Homo sapiens: one gene and its partners. The protein of the gene in region 1 purifies or fractionates together with the protein of each later gene. This does not show direct contact. Each region holds a gene or a part of one and is shown in the gene's direction. Other genes may lie near its edges.

Region 1 (2,737 bases):
TTCTACTTTTAGTTCTTTAAGGAATCTTAAAGTGTCCTAGTTGTTTTATTAAACAAAATTAAATCTGTGTGAAGTTACCAATCCAATCAACACATGAAAATTCCAGGGGATTCCAATGCTGAACAATTGATCCAAGCCCCATAATTTCCCTCCCTTGCCCATCCTGTGCCCCTTGCCCTGTTCATGGCTCCCCCCTCACTCAAAGATTGGTCTCTGATCCTGGTGTTCTGATTCTCTCTTCCCACAATCAGTCGGAAGATCATAATAAAGAATTTTGACATTCCCAAGTCAGTACGTCCAAATGACGAAGTCACTGCAGTGCTTGCAGTTCAAACAGAATTGAAAGAATGCATGGTGGTAAGTAGAGGACTGGGGGCGTGACTTCAAAAGATAATTCAACTCCTTGATTATAAACATAATTTAATCTCTCACTTTAATAATGTACAGTGTACTTAATGAAACATTCTCACTTATGTTATGCTACTTGAGACTCAGAACAACTGTGGGAGCTTGGGACAGATGACTTCTCATTTTCCAGATGAAGAAGTTCGAATCCAGAGAAGTCTAGGATAAATAAGAAGGAAAGGAAGAAGGAATAGGAAGTGAGAAAGAGGGAAAAAGAAAAAAGTGTAAGAGCTAGTAGAGAAGCAGTTAGAGTCCTTCCAAGGTCCTGAGCATGTTTAGTTTAGGATGGAGGGAGGGGAGTTCTCAGAAGAGAAAGCAGCAACTCCACACCATAGGTTGAGGTGGGTGGGCAGAAGAGGACATGCAGGATATGACTCCTCCTCTCCAGTAAGCACTGAGCGACTCTACTGTCCTCTTGCCTTCTTCTGCTCCTTTGCTCTGGGTCACCAGAAGTGGACTCTTGTTCCAGCCTCCCCACCCTGACAAGGAGCTCGTAATCATCTCCTCCTTTTCCCCACGTTCAGAAGTCCAATCTCTGAACAAGGTCAGAGGTTTTCAAATGGTAATGTGTCTAAAACTCACTCGGGGATCTTGTTAAAATTCAGAGTTTCATTCAGCAGGTCTGGGGAGAGATTAGAACTTCTGGATTTTAACAGACGCCCAAGGTACACCAAGGCTGTGCCCAAAGGATCACATTTTTGAGCAGCTTGGGATTAGAGCATTATCCCTCCTGTCTAGCTGCCAAGGGCCAGAAGTCAAATAGACTTATGCAGTTATTAATCCACAGTGACTCTTCCCTGGGACACTGGTTGTGTGTCCTTTTCCTAGTCATTGATCTCAGATGTCACAAGCATGCAAACTGCCCCCACTACCTTTGTTCTAGGGCCAAGACCCATGCATCTCCCATCTCCCCTACTCCCTCCCCAGACCCTTCATGAAGGACACCTTCTATCAGGCAGCACAAGTATTTCCTTACAACATAAGTTTCCTAATTCAAATGAGACTTAAGGACAATGATTACATGTAAAACAACATTGAGAACATGAAGATTGCTATTCAGTCAACTGCATTCTAGAAATATCCCCACACCTGTAAAGAAAAATTCCTGGTCAATGAGCAAAGAATATCACAGCTGCTTTGTCAAATTTTTCTATTTTCAGTCCAAGAATCTGAGACATGTACACTAATTTGGGGTAGGAGCAAGGCTGAATCATAATTTTTCAACTCTGTATTTTGTTTATCACAAACACAGGTGAGAATGAGAATAAGAACATGTACATAATGTGTACATAAAATTTTTGTGAAAATGGTGGTTTCTGGTGGTAATAGTTAATGGTAGTGGTAGGTATAATAAGATATGTTTGAATCAATAAAATTACATGTGACATAATTTTGTGCTTTTGTGATTAATAAAAGTATGCTTTTAAGAATCATGCTAGTACTCTAAAATAAAGCAATCTTTTCAAAACCCACCTAAGCACAACTAAAAGAATAAGAAATCTTTAGACTAACTGACTTTGCAAACTAGAAATAATTTACAGGAAAGGAAATTTTGTTAATTCTAGTCAACAAATTTTTATTTGTGGCTTCATTTTTCAAAGTATAACTATTTTTAAATTTTTATTAAAATATATTTATATAACTATAAAATTCTTACCATCTAATCCTCATTTTTTATCATTTATAATGTTTTCTGTAACTGAATTTTTGAAAAAGTGAGGTTTAGACTCATATTTATTTATTTTAGAATTAGAATAGAATATACCTACAATCGTATATTTGAATATAAAGATTGCATAATCCTTTAAAGCTGAAGGAAACTTGTGGCAAAAACAATGCTTAAACATTTTTGTGCTACAGGCCATTTCGTTGGTTTCATGAAGTTTATGAAACATTTATCAGAAAATTGCTTCTAAATGTATAAAGTGCATTGGATTACAGAGAGAAACTACCACATTGAGTAACAGTGACTAACTTGTAAAAAATAAATTTGTGATGCAGTAAGGTATGTGTTTCTTTATGCACACATTAGCTGGGAAAGCAATACATTTAAAATATAGAAGAGTTGAATTTTATTCTATGAACACATTATCTGTGTGATGGATGTTGTTACTTAGCTTGAAGAAGTACATTAAACTGCACTGGTCTTTGGCAACACGTCCCACGTGCCATGCTAGGCATGCAACGGATTCTGATCTTTTATTGTACAAGTGGTGTAAATTCTGATTCATGACGATATGTTGTTGCTAATGTAACAGAAAGGTAAACAAGGCCGGGCACAGTGGCTTGTGCCTGTAATCCCAGCACTTTGGGAGGCCAAAGTGGGCAGATC
Region 2 (3,656 bases), on another chromosome or scaffold:
CATTTCTCCCCATTATTTGTTGAATCCTTCATTTTCTCACTGATCTCAGACTTTATCAAATGGAAGCCTGTGTCTTTGCACTCGAGTTCTTTCTGGGCATTCTGCTCCATTCCTGTCTGTCCAGCATCAGTCCACTCTCTCTCATTAGTGGTGTCATATGAGATAGTCACTGTTTGGTGAACACATTCCATCCCTTATTCTGCCTCCTTTTAAAAAAGATTCTTTGCTATTCTCAAGCATTTAATTCTTCCAAGTAATCTTCTAAGTCATTGGACAAATTCCTTACAAAAACACCATGGAGATTTCAGTTGAAATTGCATTAAATTTTTGTGTTAACTTACGGGAAGACTAACATCTGGACAATGTTTTGCCTGCCCTTGCTTATGTTGATTCAGATTTTTGATGTCCAGTGAGAGGCTTGGTTGGTGTATCAGGCTCTGCACAGGGAAGCTGTCCATTCTGTGGAGTTGTTGGTAACTGGCTGGTCCTGGGGACAGAGAACTGGCCCTCGTTCCTGACTGTTAAGGGAAGGATGATGGCTCTTGGCTTGAAAAGATCATCTTTATCATGTTAACACAGTTTCCTTCTGTTTCTAAGAGGTATTATCAGAAATAACACCTTGGATTTTGGCAAAGGCATTTTCAGCATGTAGAGAATGGATTTCCCTTTTTCTCTTTGACTTCTGATAGGATGAATGTTATCAATCAGCTTTCTAATGCCGAACGATCCTTGCATTCCCCAAACAACCTTACTTGATCGTGGGACAATTCCTTGTTACATGCTTTTAGATTAGATTTGGTAATATTTTATTTTGCAATTATTTCATCTAACTACTTAAAATTAAAATTAATCCACAGTGGGTTTTCTTTGAATCTAGCTCTGTTAGGTTTTGGTCTTTGGTTCATAAATGAATTGTCCAACTCCCTTTTGGATAATCAAAATGCTCAACATTTTTTCCTTTGCTTGATTTTCAGCTAATAGTGCTGGACCCCCCGGTGAGTATTTGGGTGCCCTCTGGCCCATGGCTCACCCCCTGGGGTGCAGCTGCCATGGCGCAGGGATACCAGTGTCCTCCTTGGCCTCTTGTAGAGTCTGTGTGCACTTGGACAGCACTGGGCTTCCAAGCCCCACCTAGCATTGCCAGCAGTCACCTTGTGTCCTGCTCAGGCTTAGGCTGTCAGTTCCTTCTTGGCCACAAGACTTGGACCGTTTCTCCCACCCACAGGTGGAAGAAAGTGATAACGAGTGGTCTGTTCCACACTGTTTCACCATCTACGCGGCTCAGAAAACAATCGTGGTGGCAGCCAGGTAAGGGTCTTCCATGTCTCCATCCTGAGCAGCCCTGGATGGAGGGGTGGGGACTTCCTCGCCATGAGCCTCTGAGTCCTCTGAGCTGTGAGGAGCCATGTAGCCTCATGGGGTTGTGCCCCCTTTGACTCTGAGCTCTGCTTCCAAGTCACACAACCAAAGGAGCAGCCTCGCCCTTGTCAGGGGCAGGGCTGCTTGCCAACCTGACAACACCCCACAAGTGGCAGGCCCCAGTGCTGTGGAGCCGCTCCCTCTGCCCTCCGGTTCACAGTGCCTCCAAAGACAGGACGGGTGAGTGGGCAGGCTCCTGTGGTCTCCCAGGGCACAGGCGCTTCCCCAACCCTCACGTCAAGAAGTGCCAGCAGCTAGTGGTCAAAGCCCCAACAGGGCAGCTTACACCCAGCCCAGCCAAACACTGCCTCCCAGTCCCAGTGTGGTATAGACTCACATGAGGCAGCCCAGGCTATGGCACAGAATCAAGTGGAAACAGCTCCCTCCTCCCCAGATAAGATCAACAGAAGGATGACACTGAGCTCATTTGGCGGCCAGGATGCAGGGGCCCCTGCATGGTCACCAGCACCACACTGTGCTCTGTGAGGAGTCTCAGCTCTGACTCTGCAGCGCCCTGGCCAGCATCAGAGCACAGGGCACTCAGTTCCCACCAGGAAATGCTCACTTAATCATGAACCAGGGCCAATCTTGCATTTCAGCATCACAGATGTAGAGAACATCATTTCAGGAACAAATACCCCTGCAGACCCCCTGTTCTAGGACCGGGGCCCTGCCCTGGCACCCACAACCCTGTCACAGCACCCTGGAGGTCAGGCTGATGCAGGTCCCTCCCAGCTCTCCTCCCTGCTATTCTCGCTGGAGGGGACACGTTTCCCAGTCCTCTCACCAGGCAGGACAAAGCAGAATGTGAGAGAACAGGTGCCCTGACGGCTCGCCCTCCCTTGAGGGCTGGGGCCCTACACAAGGAAGAGCAGAGCCACTGAGCCTTGCCCTTCTCCCTGCAGCACTCGGCTGGAGAAAGAGAAGTGGATGCTGGACCTGAACTCCGCGATCCAAGCAGCCAAGAGTGGCGGTGACACGGCCCCTGCACTGCCAGGCCGCACTGTGTGCACTCGTCCCCCCAGTGAGTGCTGGCCACAACCCCCCAGGAGACCTCCACTACACCTAAGGAGGCTTTTTTTGGAAACTGTTTTCCTTGGTCCCCATTGGCCCGCTAAGTTCCCACACAATCCCCTTCCACAAGGAATGTTCCAGGCTACGCCTCATGCCTGGGCGGGAAGAGGTGTCAATCAGCTGCTCTGGCAGAAGCACCTGTAGTTTTGCTCTCAGCCAGCAGCTGGCCTAGCACCAAGGGCTCCCCATTTCCCCAGGACCCCCGAGAGGAACCCAAGGGGTGGAAGTATTTGGCAAGCAGAGGCCACAGGGGGTTCCCCCTGAGACGCTGCTGACTTCTCCCCAGGATCCCCCAACGAGGTATCTCTGGAGCAGGAGTCAGAAGATGATGCTCGGGGTGTCCGCAGCTCCCTGGAGGGGCATGGCCAGCACCGGGCCAACACCACAATGCACGTGTGCTGGTACCGGAACACCAGCGTGTCCAGGGCAGACCACAGTGCAGCTGTCGAGGTACGACCGCATGAGCACCACCTCAGTGCATCTGGAATGTTCCCAGCTGTCTCTGCACTTGGCTGCTGAGGAGGGGACCTCAGGAGGGTACCAGCAGGCAGGCTTGGCCCCAGAGGACTGCCTCTTACTCTCCCCTTGGTAGAAGTTGGTATGGAAAGTGCCCCTCATCCAGTCAAGCCCTCTTTGAAAAGGGTGTTTCAGGTCTGGTGTCTGATGAAGTCCAGCAGGCGGGGCGTGTCCTCAGGGCCTGGAGCTGGTGTGTAGTGGAGCTGAGAAAAGCCTTCCCAGACACATCCCCTGCAGCCCCCCGTCCCAGTGCCTCCAAAACCCTTCACCTCGGGCTTGGAGCTCGAGGCTCTGCCCAGGCACCCTGCCATAGAAGGTTGTCAGCTCTATCTCACTGCATGGGCCCGGTCTGCCATTGTGGGTCACCAGGTTCCTCAGCCTGGTGCCCCCACACCCTTCCCCAAGCCTGCTGTCTTACTCCACCCAGAGCTCTTGTCTTTTTTGCTGTCTCCCCATAATTCACCCCAGCCACAATCGGCTGGGCAGGGGCTCAGGAGCTACCCCAGCACCCCCGTGAGGGGGCTGAGCCCGAGCCTCTCCCCTGATGACCCTGGGTAGGTCAGGGTGCAGCAGGTCCCTGACCTGGGCCCACCAGCTTATGGCCAGTCCAGGACACCTGAGATCTAAGCAGGGTCCTAGCTAGGCCC
Region 3 (3,656 bases), on another chromosome or scaffold:
GGCCTGGGTGAACTGGTCAATCCCAGGTGGCACATCAGCCACTTATAGAGTACAGCGGCTCTGCCGCAGCAGCCATTTATAGCGGGACTATTTGACAAAGTGGGTGAGGCCCTTAGGCTAGATATCCAATGCCAAAATTATTAGGGCTTTTCTCAAATGGGATTTACCACCTTTTTGGCCTACTGCTGCTCCATGACAACAGGGGCCAGGGCCACTTCTTCCCCTTGGCCATCTTTCCTTTTGGCATCTGGGGCGGCTAGAGGAGAGAGGCTGCTGAAATGTCTCATCTTCAAGGAATCCTTCCCTCACCACCTGTTCCCCCACACTAGGTCAGAGACCCTTACTGACATGCTGTCATAGCACTCTATTCTACTTGAAAGGCATCTACTAGTTACAGTTAAATAATGGGATGTGCGATCATTTATTTGATTTTTGTCACTGCCTCTCCTTGGACTCTAAACTCCAAAGGACAGTGATTATATTTTGTTAATTGCTATGTCCTAACGCCTAATATGGTGTCTGGAATGCAGGAAACTTTCAATAAATATTAATACTTGGGCTGAGCGCAGCGGCTCATGCCTGTAATCCCAGCAGTTGGGGAGGCTCAAGCGGGCAGACCACCTGAGGTCGTGAGTTCAAGACCAGCCTGGCCAACATGGCAAAACCCCATCTCTACTAAAAATACAAAAATTAGCCAGGTGTGGTGGCGGGGTCCTGTAATCCCAGCTACTCACGAGGCTGAGGCAGGAGAATCGCTTCAACCCGGGAAGTGGAGCTTGCAGTGAGCCTAGATTGCGCCATTACATTACAGCCTGGGCGACAGAGTGAGACTCCATCTCAAAAAAAAATTAGGCCAGGCATGGTGGCTCATACCTGTAATCCCAGCACTCTGGGAGGCTGAGGTGGGCGGATCATGAGGTCAAGAGATTGAGACCATCCTGGCTAACACGGTGAAACCCTGTCTCTACTAAAAATACAAAAAATTAGCCGGGCATGCTGGCAGACGCCTGTAGTCCCAGCTACTCGGGAGGCTGAGGCAGCAGAATGGCATGAACCCGGGAGGTGGAGCTTGCAGTGAGCCGAGATTGTGCCACTGCACTCCAGCCTGGGCAACAGAGTGAGACTCTGTCTCAAAAAAAAAAAAAAAAATTCATAGTTGTTGAATGCATGTTTGAGCTGAGCCTGAAAGTTTTACCAGGCAGTAGAAACTGTAAAGAACAACCTAGTGGCTTGAAACTGCTTGGCATATTCAGAAACAGTGAGAAGTTAGGGGTGTGGTGTGGTGGGAAGAGACACCGATGAGTTAAGCAAGAGCAGCAGTTGAGTGCAGATCATAAGAATCTTAGAGAGCCATGTAGGTTGAGTGGTAAAATGCACAGAAAATTGACCATTTTAATCATTTTGAAGTATATAGTTCAGTGGAATTTTGTCCACTAAATGTGCCACCATCATCATTATCTAGTTCCAGAAGGTTTTTTTTCACCCCAAGAGGAAGCCTCATATCCATTAAGCAGTCACTCCCCTTACCCTCTCCTCAGCCCCTCACAACCACGAATCTGCCTTCTTTCCCCATGGATTTGCCTGTTCTGGGCATTTCCTATAAGTGGACCCATATCTTACATGCTCTTTTGTGTCAGGTTTCTTTCACTTAACATAATCTTGAAGTCCATCCATGTTGTACCATGTATTAATATCAGTTCTTCATTCCTTTTTTTTGGTTTTTGAGAAGGAGTCTCTCTCACTGTCGCTCAGGCTGGAGTGCAGTGATGAGATCTCGGCTCATTGTAACCACCGCCTCCCAGGTTCAAGCGATTCTCCTGCCTCAGCCTCCCAAGTAGCTGGGATTACAGGCACCCACCACCACGCCCAGCTAATTTTTTGTATTTTTAGTAGAGACAGGGTTTCACTATGTTGGCCAGGCTGGTCTCAAACTCCTGACCTCATGATCCGCCCACCTCAGCCTCCCAAAGTGCTGGAATTACAGGCATGAGCCATTGCACCTGGCCTCTTCATTCCTTTTTATGGCTGAATAATATTCTATCATATGGATAGATCATATTTCATTTTACCATACATCAGTTGATGGACATTTGGGTTGTTTTCATCTTTTGACTATTGTGAATAGAACTTCTATAGACATTCGCTGGGCGTGGTGGCTCACACCTGTAATCCCAGCACTTTGGGAGGCCGAGGCAGGTGGATCACGAGGTCAGGAGATTGAGAACATTCTGGCTAACACGGTGAAACCCCATCTCTACTAAAAATACAAAAAAATTAGCCGGGCGTGGTGGCAGGTGCCTGTAGTCCCAGCTACTCGGGAGGCTGAGGCAGGAGAATGGTGTGAACCCGGGAGGTGGAGCTTGCAGTGAGCCGAGATCACGCCACTGGACTCCAGCCTGGGCGACAGAGCCAGACTCCATCTCAAAAAAAAAAAAAAAAAAGAACTTCTATAGACTTTCATGTACAAGTTTTTGTTTGAATGTGTTTTTTTGTTTGTTTTTTGTTTTTTGAGACAGTCTCGCTCTGTCACCCAGGCTAGAGTGCAGTGGCGCCATCTCCACTCACTGCAACGTCCACCTCCTGGGCTCAAGTGATTCTCCTGCCTCAGCCTCCCCAAGTAACTGGGATTACAGGCACACACCACCACACCTGGCCAATTGTTGTATTTTTAGTAGAGATGGGGTTTCACCATGTTGGCCAGGCTGGTCTCGGACTCCTGACCTAAAGTGATCCAACTGTCTCAGCCTCCCAAAGTGTATTTGAATGCGTTTTTAATTCTTTTGGGTAAATTTGTAGGAGTGGAATTGCTGTGACATGTGATAACTCTGTAACTTTTTGAGGAAACACCAACATTTTCCAGAGTGGCCAAAGCATTTTACATTTCCACTGACAATGTCCAATTTCTCCACATCCTCAACAACACTTGTTATTTTACTTGTTTTTTTTATTATTCTATTTAATTATTATCCTAATGGGTATGGAGTGGTACCTCATCATGGTTTTGATTTGTGTTTTCCTAATGATTAATAACATTGAGCATCTTTTCATATGCTTGTTGGCCATTTCTTATCTTCTTTGGAGCAATGTTGGTTATATTTTTGGTATCATAACCAAGAAATCATTGCCAAATTCAGGATCAGAAAGAATTATACAAAGGAATCCATTGTTTTAAACGTAATTTATATTTTTTACTTATTTTTGTTTTATAGAGAGAAGGACTTTCAAAATTCAACAAGATCTATGAATTTGATTATCATCTGTATGGCCAGGTAGGTGCTAAAATATTTCTAAAATATTTCAATCATAAGCAAGAGAAAGTAGTCAGCCTCGTCATATGTAGAATATGTCGCTGTCTTAAGAATAACAACTGTTAACAACCTAAAGGTTCCTGGATATGGGGTGATCACTTTATAATTTATGAGGAGTTCTCTTTTTAATAAAATATGGTCCCATCTCAGCTCTTCATTACAAAAAAAAAAAGCTAATATACAATAGTTTGAGGAAAATTTAACTGATGCAAGAGGCGTCAGTTATACACCATATCATTAGAATGGTGATTGTATTCCTGTGACTTTTGGCTTTGAAGAGCTTATATTTATGTTTATTTCTTCCCAATCAGGTTTTTAAAAATGTCTTTAATAGAAGCTCCTCCCTCT

The links.
Region 2: the proteins of PIP (region 1) and FARP2 purify together in Homo sapiens (co-immunoprecipitation; 2 studies listed by BioGRID and IntAct, with this or other methods). This does not show direct contact.
Region 3: the proteins of PIP (region 1) and TOP3A purify together in Homo sapiens (co-immunoprecipitation; 2 studies listed by BioGRID and IntAct, with this or other methods). This does not show direct contact.

Annotation. Positions count from the first base shown.
Region 1 is NC_000007.14:143,134,943-143,137,679, forward strand, and holds part of PIP (prolactin-inducible protein precursor), read left to right. Parts: intron 1-251; coding exon 252-357; intron 358-2,737.
Region 2 is NC_000002.12:241,488,737-241,492,392, forward strand, and holds part of FARP2 (FERM, ARHGEF and pleckstrin domain-containing protein 2), read left to right. Parts: intron 1-974; coding exon of another isoform or gene 975-995; intron 996-1,225; coding exon 1,226-1,308; intron 1,309-2,324; coding exon 2,325-2,443; intron 2,444-2,779; coding exon 2,780-2,943; intron 2,944-3,656. UniProt on the Homo sapiens protein: Functions as a guanine nucleotide exchange factor that activates RAC1. May have relatively low activity. Plays a role in the response to class 3 semaphorins and remodeling of the actin cytoskeleton.
Region 3 is NC_000017.11:18,308,495-18,312,150, reverse strand, and holds part of TOP3A (DNA topoisomerase 3-alpha), read left to right. Parts: intron 1-3,209; coding exon 3,210-3,269; intron 3,270-3,656. UniProt on the Homo sapiens protein: Releases the supercoiling and torsional tension of DNA introduced during the DNA replication and transcription by transiently cleaving and rejoining one strand of the DNA duplex.